Linked DNA regions of Homo sapiens. The protein of the gene in region 1 interacts with the protein of each later gene in a pairwise test. Each region holds a gene or a part of one and is shown on either strand. Other genes may lie near its edges.

Region 1 (4,086 bases):
AGCTCAGAGGAGTGAGGCAACACCAACACCAGGGCGTACGATACACCCGAGGCTCCTCCGACACCAGTTCCAGCCCGGAAGGGCTTGGAATGGCCTGCCACGCCGGGGCAATGGAGCGCGTGAAAGCCAAACCTTGGGACCCGAAGAGTAATTTGACTGCGAAGGCACCGTCATCGTCGGGCACCCCCTGTAGACGGGCGCATAATAGCTACATCTCTGGAGATAGTGATGGAAACTGGGGTCCGATAGATGGAGAGAAGGACGTAGGATAAGGCTTCTTGTGGGGTGAAGAGGCAGAGGGCACCTGGAGAGAGGTGTGGCATGGAGAACCAGGGGTTTTCCCTAGCAGAGGGCGGCTTCGTGGACTTCGGCCAACCGGCGGGTGCTTCCCTCGAGCGGCCGCTAGATGGTGGTGCTGTTCTGGATGCTTCCAGTGGGCCCCGACCAGGTCTGGACAATGCCTGGCGCCCGTCCCCCGCCCCTCATCTACACACACGCAAGAATTCGGAGCTCCATGGGGAACAGAAGCAAGATATCCGTAAAATCAAAGTCTAGGGGGTGGGAATGAAAAGGGAAAAGTGAGGAACGGGGAGCCAAACCCAGGAAGACGCCTCTGTTCCTGCACATTCCCTCTCCTTTATATACTCAGCTCTTGGCTGTCTCCAGTATGTACCCACCCTGGTCTTCCAAGCTGGGAGCCACTTTTTATAACACAATCACAGTTTCACAAACCCCAGGAAGGTTCCATGTGGAGAGAGGTTAAGTTTCGCCCTTGCCCGGGGAATTATGACACTCAGAATATCCCCTTGGTGTAAATGGAAGACACCTGAGAAAAGAGAGAAAGTAGATTCGCAGTGAAGCACAGCCATCCAGATGCCCTGTTTCCCCCTGCCTTCTCCAGCTCCACCGTTCCTCTGCCTCCTGTAAGGACCCGGCATTCTGCACTTCACTCCTCAGACCCGCCTCTGTTTAGGTTTCCAACCTCCCTCCTAGCGGTAGCTCCCTGCACTGCTACCCCCGGTCAGAGACGTCCTGCTTTCGGCTGCCCACACGGCTCTCACCTGCGCTATAGCAGCTGTTGTAGGCCCGGTCCGGGTGGGAGGGCATACTTCTTATACATCGGAATAGAGTCTCCTGCCTTCCTTGGCCTTCTCGAGACACCACCTGACCCATGGTGAAAGTCACGTCTTGAAACAGGACCTGGCAGGGAAGGGAGATGTTGAAGAAAACAGGATGGCCTGGCTCAGTTCTGGGAGGCCTCAGGAGCGCTAACGAGGGAAGAAAGAAGGGTCTGCTGGGTTTGGTATGAATAGAGGGGTCAGGAACCCTCAGTAGGGGGCCAAAGAGGCCCTCTGTGAAGCTCAGAGTGTGGCTGGGGTTACCTGGCTATACAGCAGATAAACTCCAGCATCCTGGATTCGGACACCATATCCTTGGGCCTGTAGGCCTCTCCCACGCCTAAGAGCTGGTTGCCACATCACCTCTGTCACATCGGAGTCATCTGGAGGTGAGAGTGTGTCGGTCAGGACTTCTTGGCACTCTCAGGTGCTTTTTGGTTCTTTCCCTTTCACCTATAAGGACCCCTTGAGCCCAAGTGCCAGCCCGAGTTCCTGGTTATTGCCCCTCCCCAAAGCCATTATTTAAAATAGTGCTCACCCTTGGAGGTGGCGTTAATGGGAACCAGGTGCAGGACAGAGTGCTGCTCTGAGGAGAGAAGGAGGGAATCTCAGCCGCATCCACTTTCCCCCGTTGTGCTGTTGGCAGCCTCCACCCTCACCCTGACTCGGGCTTACAATCCCCACGCTGCTTGATCACCTCCCACCCCTGCTGCACCCTGGAAGCCTCACTCTTCTGTTTTTGGGTGAGCACTGCTCTCCTTTTCCGGGATCTCTCCCCATTCTCCCAGGCTTCCAGGGCATCGGAACTCTGCTCATGGAAAGAGGGTCAAGGTTAGGTTAAGATGCGAGGGTCCCAGCCAGCCTGCCTTCCCAGCCCTCCCCTGCCCCCGAGATGCCTCAGATCTCTCACGCACCTTTTCCCAGCACCCTGAGTGTTGGTGCTGGCTGCCCTCCAGGATTTGTTAGGTATGAGAAGCATTAACCTTTAACAGTTTCCTTTCCTGGAATGGCCGCGCCCCTGACTTCCAAACCGGAGACCCTCTCTTGCACCCCCTTGAAACTTTGCAGACCAGGAGGCCCAGAGACCCCCCATGCTAACCATCCTCTCCCAGACACCCTCCTCCCCTCACTCACCTGCTCCGGGAGACTCTGCCAGGGATACCCTTCCCCATTCTGGGAGGGGCCTCCTGTCCCCTGCAGCCGGCTCACCTCTCTCCTGAGGCTCTGCAGCTCTGTTTGTTGGGTCAGCAGAGCCATGGCACAAGCCACGGCCCCCAGAGCTGCCCCCCAACTCAACCAGAGGGCAACTGAGAGTGCCGGCTCTCTGACTGGGCCCCCCATGTTGCCTGGAGGCCCTTTGGGGGCTAGCAAGAAAGGAGATGAGGCTGGCATGAGCTGGGGACCCTGCCAACAGCTGTGGTTTCAAGAGTGGGGTAGCAAGGAGGTGGCGGGGCGGGTAAGGGTACGGGCAGTGGTGCAGAAGGGAAGAAGGTTGTTACGCAAGGAGAAATAAAAAGGAACTTGAAAATAAAAAGGAGGGAGGAGGAAAGCAAGCTAAGGGTACTGTTAGTGCTCCTGGCACTCCGTCGTGGGGCCAGCGTTGCCTTGAGACCCTCCACCCTCCCTCAGCCTCAGGAGAATTAGGTTCCAGTCCCTCTAGGAAGGACAGGGCTGCCAGTGACACCCAGGAGGAACAGGCAGTGCGCAGGAACCCTGGGGCGGCCCCAGGGTTGGGGGAGGGAAGGTTGGCTGGCTAGAGGGCATTGTGCCAGGAGCAGGATGGGGGGCCAAGCTGGGCAGTGTCCAGGGTCAGGGCGAGGGTGGAAGACCCTCGGGGTCAAGCACAGCAGAGATCGCTGGGGCAGTTCACTAGGGGTGACTGAAGGTGGGAAAGGAGGGGTGGGCTCGATGGGGAGGAGAACCAGGGGCACGGAAGCAAGAAACTGGCTGAGTTCTGGGGTTAAGGCTGGGCCGGGTGTGTTGGAATAAGGCCTGCACTACTCCCTGTGCTGAAATTGGCAAGCAGGACTTCCTGTTTCCCGAGAAAAGCTCTTACATAAGGCTCTGGACGAAGAGACAAAGCAGCGGCCTCAAGCCCCCCGGCCACTGCGGGATTCCTCCCCAGCACACAGGGTTCCGGGTTCCCGTGTGCCTGCTGACTCTCAGCCCCTCCTCCAGGCTGGCTCCTGCCCGCCCCACCTCCCAGCCAGGGCCTGTGCCAGCACCTGCTGAATGTCCGAGGCCACCAAGAGGAAGGGCCCCTGCTCCTCCCAGCCAGGAAGGGATTTCCCCGCAGGAGGAAGTCTGCCTCCTAGGCCAAGGAGGCCGCTTCTGCTGTACCTTGGGCGGAGGATTGATTTTTTTCCTGGGCAGTGTGCCTTCCTACCTCTGCTCCCACCTGGGGGCTGGAGGCATGGAGGTCCCCGCCCCCAAGCCTGAACATCATCCCGGAGTTCCAGCTGTGCCGCTCCGCAACGCCCCCCTTCACGTGGCCCCCAGCTACCCTGAGAGTGTCCCCTGAGCCCCAATAAAGAGAGAGACTATGACTTATTCTATTTAATATCCATTTATCAACATTTTGTCACAATAATAATAAAAATAATATCTGTTTTAAAAATCCACAGGGAATTCTCAAGGGAGGAGCTTGTCTTGTTTCTCGCCCCTCACATTTGGGAACTCCTGGCCTAGGCCCAGTCTCTTTGGCTTCCTGCCGCCAGGTCCAGCCCCTCTTAGTGCCTGAAGTGGGGTCTTCTGGACCCATCCTTGCCCACAGAGTACAGTGAACACAATGCCCTGGGGGTCTGTGGCCAGGGGGGAGTCGAGATCACTGGGGGCCTCAAAGGGTCAGGGATTGGGGAGCTAGTGAGGTGGAGAGTGGGCGGTGGGGGAGTTGTAAGATAAGAGTGGGAATACTGTATTTATGTGGGATGGAAAACACGTGAACAGGCCCAGGCAGCCTCTAGAGGGA
Region 2 (3,500 bases), on another chromosome or scaffold:
GAGACCACACACAAAACACAAAACCACGAAAGGCAGGGGAGACTAGGCTGTGGTCCGTGAGTGGTGGATAGTGAGACAGGCTGTAAAAGGTGTGATTACGTAAATGCTATCTGCATTGTTCTTGTAGGTATTAAAACCAGAAAGCTGGCCGGGTGTGGTGGCTCATGCCTGTAATCCCAGCACTTTGGGAGGCCAAGGCAGGCTGATCGCTGGAGGTCAGGAGTTCAAGACCAGCCTGGCCAATATGGTGAAACCCCATCTCTATTAAAAACACAAAAATGAGCCTGGCATGGTGGTGCATGCCTGTAATCCCAGCTACTCAAGAGGCTGAGGCAGGAGAATCACTTGAACCCAAAGGCGGAGGTTGCAGTGAGTCGAGATCGCACCACTGCCCTCCAGCCTGGGCGACAGAGCAAGACTCTGTCTCAAAAAAAAAAGAAAACAGAAAAGCAAGGGAGACATGAATGAAATGTGTTCACCCATAGCGTTGCCTAAGTGTGTGTATATGGATTGATAAAGCAATCCTGCTGTATCAGAAGCATTGACCACTAGGATCCCTTCCAATGTTTAGACTCCATGCCTCTGGTTTTGTTGGCGAAGCGTGCTGAAGTTAGTGACACTGAGCATCAGCGCTGTCCGGATGTTACTATTGCAAGTTTCCTAGCTTATCATGAGCATGGGTCACCGTTGTCATTGCGGCTTGTACTTGGGGAGGGCCACGGTGCACTATTGTGGCCTGACATGGCTGCACTGCTGCAGGAAGACCGTGTAACACAGAGCCTGGGGGCCACCTTCTGCCCAGCTGGACTCCCCACTGCTGCACAGCCCAGGACTGTGGGAAATGAGCATGAAGCATTCCTAAAATAATTAGAAGCTTCTGTTTTCTTACATCTGGGCCCATGTGAACCCACAGATATAGCATGGGACACAGAGTATAGGCAGCAGGCCACGGGCCGTGGGGTCTGAGACCACACTGCGGACAAGCAGGTGGACCCCGAGGCCCAGAGTCTCCCCGACCCCAGCACCAGCCTGTTTGCTTTGGAGCCTGGCTCTGCCCTGCAGCAGTGCTCAGCCTGAGGAATTCCAGACTCCCCACCACTTTGGCCTTGTCGTTTCTAAGAAAGAGCTGGCCGCTGCAAGCTTGGACTGGCATCCTTTTCTGAGGATGTAGCTTTTCAACAGGGTCCAGGAGGAATCACTCCCTTGGGCTCTCCGGGGAAAAAAGCTTAATAAAGATGTCTCTCATTCTCTCATCCTCTTTGTCTTGTTACTCTTGTTTCAGATGTAGTTGCCCATTCAAATACTCTATTTCTGTTTCAGGAATATGTGTCTGGGAAGGAAGGCAGTTGACAGTTGTTGGAAATGAAAACCTAGTTTGCTTGAGATATTTCCTGCACGTCCCCTTGGCTGTGTGTTTGCAGCCCTGCTGGGAAAAGGTGGTGGGGGAGAGTTGTTTTGAGCTGGGAACATCAGCCTGGATTCTAAACTTAGGCCAGCCTGGCCCCAATTTTATATCGACTCTGTCCACCCTGTTTGCAGTCCTGATGGGAAAGAAAGTCTGGCTGGTATTCTCTCTTGTCTGAATATGCCTGAGCCGTGTTCCTTTCATCTCCTGAAGTAGTTGGAAGTGATGGTTGCCGTGTCTGGGCTGTTTAATGTCCAGGGCAGTCAGTGTCTCAGGGGTGAGAGGTTTTCTCCCTTACCAGTTACCTTCCAGCCCATAACGTTGGTTTCTGACTCTGATCCCCTTAACTTCTGCAAGATTCATGAAACTCTTTCTTAGCCATCAGATAGTAACCCAGAATTGAATAGTTTGGTGCTAGAGGGAAGGGAAGAGGGAAGGATCAAAGCCCAGGAAAGACTGGGAGCAGAGCACAGAGGCCCAGGGGGAAAAGGCCAAGTGGATGCCTGTAGGGAGAGGAGGAGGCTGTGATCGAGAAGGGCATGCATGAGGGAAGGAAGAGCTGGGAGACTGCCAGGTAATTCTCAGCCTGGATATTGTGAGCCGAGAGAGAGGAGGAGGCTGTAAGACCCAAGAAAGAGACAGCAGAGGGAGGAAAGAGTGGGATGGAGGGTACTGTCAGGAGAGAAGGCCAGGAGCAAACCTAAGTTCTTCCCTGCTCATGGCAGGCTCAGGAATCAGCTAGAGTTAAAGCTTACCCGGGGCTGCCAAGGGCTCAGGTGAATGCAGGGTGGACGCCGTCCTTGAAGTTCTAAGAATTTCAAGGAGATGCAAGGGTGGAGGATGTACCAGGCGGGGTTGAGTGGAGCTGGGAATCCTGTCACCCAGCATAGAGTGGGTGGGGGGCATGGGCTCACAGGTGTTGCCAAGCAGAATGTGGCAGGCTCAGCTCTGCTGAGATGAAGCTGAGAGCCCACGGGTGTGAGTGGTGCCCTGGGAGCAGCGCCCCTGGGGAAGACAGAGAGGAGGGACCTCGGGTCTGAGGAAGCTGGGAAGCAAGGCCGGGAAGGGGTCTGGTGCTGAGACCAGTTGGGGAACAAGTGTGAGACCTTGGAGGTGGCGCATGGTGGCTCAAAAGCTTGTGTGGAGGCAGAGGGGATGAGGGGGAGGGAGAAGGATGGGAGACATTGTCACTGTGGATTCTGATGTTGCAGGAATTGGGGTCAAAGAAGGAAAAAATGAGAGCCGGGGAGTAGTCAACCAGGAGGGCGCTGGCGGGTCTGGGGAGGGTGCGGAGTGTAGAAGCTGGAATAGGACTTTGTGGTGAGGGGTTAGAATGGGTGGGTTTAGGGAATGGCCAGGTGATGACATCAGCAGCCTGGAAGGGCAGCGGCCAGCCACCCTGTCCACGACTGAGCCTCGGCTCTCCTGAGGCTAGGTAAGACTCCCCTTTATGGGACGCAGTGTCAGGGCCCAGAAGAAGCACTTCAGAGCAGCACCTTTGCCTCTGTTTCAGGATCGCTGGTGACACAGCCCTCAACAAAAACATCCACGAGTCCGTCAGCGCCCAGATCCGGAAAAACTTTGCCAAGAGCAAATGGAGAGTAAGTGTGGAGTATATGAAATTCCCCGTGGATTAACCCCCTCGTGACACTGGCCCTCCAATCTGAGCATTTCTGAAATCCCCAGAACCTCACCTGAATAATTTTGCTAATTTTAACTGCAAGTAATAAAGACTCAGAGGGAATATTATGGTGTAAGAGGGATGGAGTGTGCAATTCAACACTTCCCCTCTGTGATCAAAGACAGCAATAGTGCCAGCTCTTCCTCATCTGCTGTTTCTTAACCAACATCACCCTTGTCTTTCTTCACCTTGCTAGAACTTTGAATAGCTGACTTTTATTAAAGCGATATGGAGGGGGAAAAAACAGGAAATCTGAGTTGTACTCATCAATGTTTCCTGATAAAAGTTTGACAGATTTAAACCATGGAGGTTTTGTGATCATCTGTTGATTACCTGACTTCCTAATCTCTTGATTACCTGACCTCCCCTCCGTGTTCCAATCAGCAATGGCAATTCAGAGCTAGCTATTTTGCC
Region 3 (3,500 bases), on another chromosome or scaffold:
ATTTATTGTAATTGTAGATACTGGACTGATTCTCAGATATAATTGTTTTACAGACAGGAACTGGACTGAGCTTTGACATGGCTAGCTTGATAAATAATCCAGCCTTCATTAGTATGGTGAGTATACTTTCTTTTCTGCCTCTACTGGCTATGTTTTCCATAGACTATGTAGCTATGCAATTTTTTTTAGAAACAAGTGAGTTTTTGTGGTGGTGGTTGTAGTGGAGTATTGATATAAGGCTATAGCAGGGTTCTGTTTTTTTATTTCCAACTTTTATTTCAAGTGCAGGGGTAAATGTGCAGGATGTGCAGGTTTGTTACATAGGTAAAACGTCTGCCATGGTAGTTTGCTGCACAGATCCTCCCATTACCCAGGTATTAAGCCCAGCATCTATTAGCTGTTCTTCGTGATCCTTCCTCTCCTCCCATCCTCTGCCCTCCAACAGGCCCCAGTGTGTGTTGTTCCCCTACATGTGTCATTGTGTTCTCATCATTTGGCTCCCACTTGTAAGTGAGAACATGTGTTATTTGGTTTTCTTTTCCTGTGTTAGTTTGTTAAGTAAAATGGTAAAATGGCCTCCAGCTCCATCCATGTCCCTGCGAGGGACATAATCTTATTTCTTGTTTTGGCTGCATAGCATTCCATGGTGTATATGTACCGCATTTTCTTTATCCAGTCTATCATTGATAGGCATTTGCATTGATTCCATGTCTTTGCTATTGTGAATAGTGCTGCAGTGAACATACGTACGAATGTGTATTTACAGTAGAAAGATTTCTATTCCTTCGGGTATATACCCAGTAATGGGATTGCTGGGTCGAATGGTATTTCTGCTTCTAGGTCTTTGAGGAATCACCACACTGTCTTCCACAATGGTTGAACTAATTTACATTTCCACCAACAGTGTTAAAAGCATTCCTTTTTCTCCACAACTTCGCCAGCATCTGTTGGTTTTTGTTTTTTTTGTTGTTGTTGTTGTTTGTTTGTTTTTTGAGACAGAGTTTCACTCTTGTCACCCAGTCTGGAGTGCAATGGTGTGATCTTGGCTCACTGCAACCTCCACCTCCTGGGTTCAAGCGAATCTCCTGCCTCAGCCTCCTGAGTAGCTGGGATTATAGGCACCCACAACCATGCCTGGCTAATTATTGTATTGTCAGTAGAGATGGGGTTTCACCATGCTGACCAGGCTAGTCAAATGACCTCTGGTGATCCGCCTGCCTCAGCCTCCCAAAGTGCTGGGATTACGGGCATGAGCCACCACACCTGGCCTGTTTTTGAGTTTTTAATTATAGTTGTTCTGACTTGTGTGAGATGGTATCTCATTGTGGTTTTGATTTGCATTTCTCTAATGATCAATGATGTTGAGCTGTTTTTTCATATGTTTGTTGGCCACATATATGTCTTCTTTTGAGAATTGTCTGTTCATTTCCTTTGCCCACTTTATAATGGGGTTGTTTTTTTCTTGTAAATTTGTTTAAGTTCTTATAGATGTAGGATATTAGACCTTTGTCAGATAGATAGATTGCAAAAATGTTCTCCCATTCTGTAGGTTGTCTGTTTACTCTGTTGATTGTTTCTTTTGGTGTGGAAAAGAAACTCTTTAGTTTAATTAGATCCCATTTGTCAATTTTTTCTTTTGTTGCAATTGCTTTTGGCATCTTCATCATGAAATCTTTGCCTGTGTCTATGTCCTGAATGATATTGCCTCGGTTTATAGAGTTCTTATAGTTTTGAGTTGCACATTTAAGTCTTTAATCCATCTTGAGTTGATTTTTGTATATATATGGTATAACGAAGGGGTCCAGTTTCAATTTTCTCCATATGGCTAGCCAATTCTCTCAGCAACACTTATTAAATAGGGAATCCTTTCCCCATTGCTTTTGCCAGGTTTGTCAAAGATCAGATGGTTGTGAGTGTGCAGTCTTATTTCTGGGTTCTCTGTTCTGTTCCACTGGTCTATGTGTCTGTTCTTGTACCAGTACCATGCAGTTTTGGTTATTGTAGCCCTGTAGTACAGTTTGAAATTGGGTAGCATGATGCCTCAGCTTTGTTCTTTTTGTTTAGGATTGCCTTGGATGTTTGGGCTCTTTTTTGGTTCCATATGAATTTTAAAATAGTTTTTTCTAATTCTGTGAAGAATGTCAATGGTAGTTTAATGGGAATAGCATTGAATCTATAAATTGCTTTAGGCAATATGGCCATTTTCACGATTTTGATTCTTCTATCCATGAGCATGGAGTGTTTTTCCACTTGTTTCTGTTCTCTCTTATTTCCTTGAGCAGTGGTTTGTAGTTCTCCTTGAAGAGTTCCTTCACTTTGCCTGTTAGCTGTATTTCTAGATATTTTATTCTTTTTATGGCAATTGTGAATGCGAGTTCATTTGTGATTTGACTTTCGACTTGCCTGTTGTTGGTATGTAGGAATGCTAGCAATTTTTGCACATTGATTTTGTATCCTGAGACTGTGCTGAAGTTGCTTATCAGCTTAATAAACTTCTCGACTGAGACAATAGGGTTTTCTAGATATAGGATCCTGTCATCTGCATATAGGGATAATTTGACTTCCTCTCTTCCTATTTGAATATGCTTTATTTCTTTATTGTGCTTCATTTCCCTGGCCAAAACTTCCAATACTATTAATTTGTTGAATAGGAGTGATGAGAGAGGGTATTTTGTCTTGTGCTGGTTTTCAAGGGGAACACTTCCAGCTTTTGCCCATTCAGTATGATATTGGCTGTAGGTTTGTCATATATGGCTTTTATTATTTTGAGGTATGTTCCTTCAATATCTAGTTTATTAAGAGTTTCTTATATGAAAGGATGTTGAATTTTCTTGAAGGCCTCTTCAGCATCTATTGAGATAATCATGGGGTTTTTGTCTTTAGTTCTGTTTATGAGATGAATCACATTTATTGATTTGCATATGTAGAAACAGCCTTGCATCTTGGGGATGAAGCCTCCGTGATTGTGATGGGTAAGCTTTTTGATGTGCTGCTTGGATTCAGTTTGCCAGTATTTTGCTGAGGATTTTTGTATCAATGTTCATCAAGGATATTGGCCTGAAGTTTTCTTTTTTGTTATTGTATCTCTGCCAGGTTTTGGTATCAGGATGATGTTGGCCTCATAGAATGAATTAGGGAGGAGATCCTCCTTTTCAATTTTTTAGAATAGTTTCTGTAGGAACGGTACCAGCTCTTCTTTGTACCTCTGGTAGAATTCAGCTGTGAATTCGTCTGGTCCTGGGCTTTTTTTTTTTTTTTTGGTTGGTAGGCTATTTATTAGTGCCTCAATTTCAGAACTCATTATTGGTTTATTCAGGGATTCAATTTCTTCCTGGTTCAGTCTTGGGAGGATGTATGTGTCCAGGAATTTATCAAGTTCTTCTAGAAATTCATTAGTAAAATTTCTAGTTTATGCGCATAGGACTGTTTATACTATTCTTTGATGGTTGTTTGTATTTCTGTGGGGTCAGTGGTAATATCATTTTTGATTGTGTTTGTTT

Evidence for each region. Proteins that work in one complex are often made in the same cells at the same time.
Region 2: the proteins of TNFSF13 (region 1) and CAMK1D interact in a two-hybrid assay, tested with the Homo sapiens proteins (one large-scale study listed by BioGRID and IntAct).
Region 3: the proteins of TNFSF13 (region 1) and SGTB interact in binary tests that used the Homo sapiens proteins (3 or more experiments, as listed by UniProt).

Annotation. Positions count from the first base shown.
Region 1 is NC_000017.11:7,557,464-7,561,549, reverse strand, and holds the start of TNFSF13 (tumor necrosis factor ligand superfamily member 13 isoform alpha precursor), read right to left. Parts: upstream 2,801-4,086; 5' UTR 2,511-2,800; coding exon 2,253-2,510; intron 1,927-2,252; coding exon 1,848-1,926; intron 1,705-1,847; coding exon 1,657-1,704; intron 1,502-1,656; coding exon 1,383-1,501; intron 1,201-1,382; coding exon 1,062-1,200; intron 827-1,061; coding exon 717-826; 3' UTR 552-716; coding exon of another isoform or gene 545-551; 3' UTR 1-544. Other genes in the region: TNFSF12-TNFSF13 protein, read right to left, coding at 717-826, 1,062-1,200, 1,383-1,501, 1,657-1,704, 1,848-1,926. UniProt on the Homo sapiens protein: Cytokine that binds to TNFRSF13B/TACI and to TNFRSF17/BCMA. Plays a role in the regulation of tumor cell growth. May be involved in monocyte/macrophage-mediated immunological processes.
Region 2 is NC_000010.11:12,821,547-12,825,046, forward strand, and holds part of CAMK1D (calcium/calmodulin-dependent protein kinase type 1D), read left to right. Parts: intron 1-2,918; coding exon 2,919-3,006; intron 3,007-3,500. UniProt on the Homo sapiens protein: Calcium/calmodulin-dependent protein kinase that operates in the calcium-triggered CaMKK-CaMK1 signaling cascade and, upon calcium influx, activates CREB-dependent gene transcription, regulates calcium-mediated granulocyte function and respiratory burst and promotes basal dendritic growth of hippocampal neurons.
Region 3 is NC_000005.10:65,677,110-65,680,609, reverse strand, and holds part of SGTB (small glutamine-rich tetratricopeptide repeat-containing protein beta), read left to right. Parts: intron 1-53; coding exon 54-116; intron 117-3,500. UniProt on the Homo sapiens protein: Co-chaperone that binds directly to HSC70 and HSP70 and regulates their ATPase activity.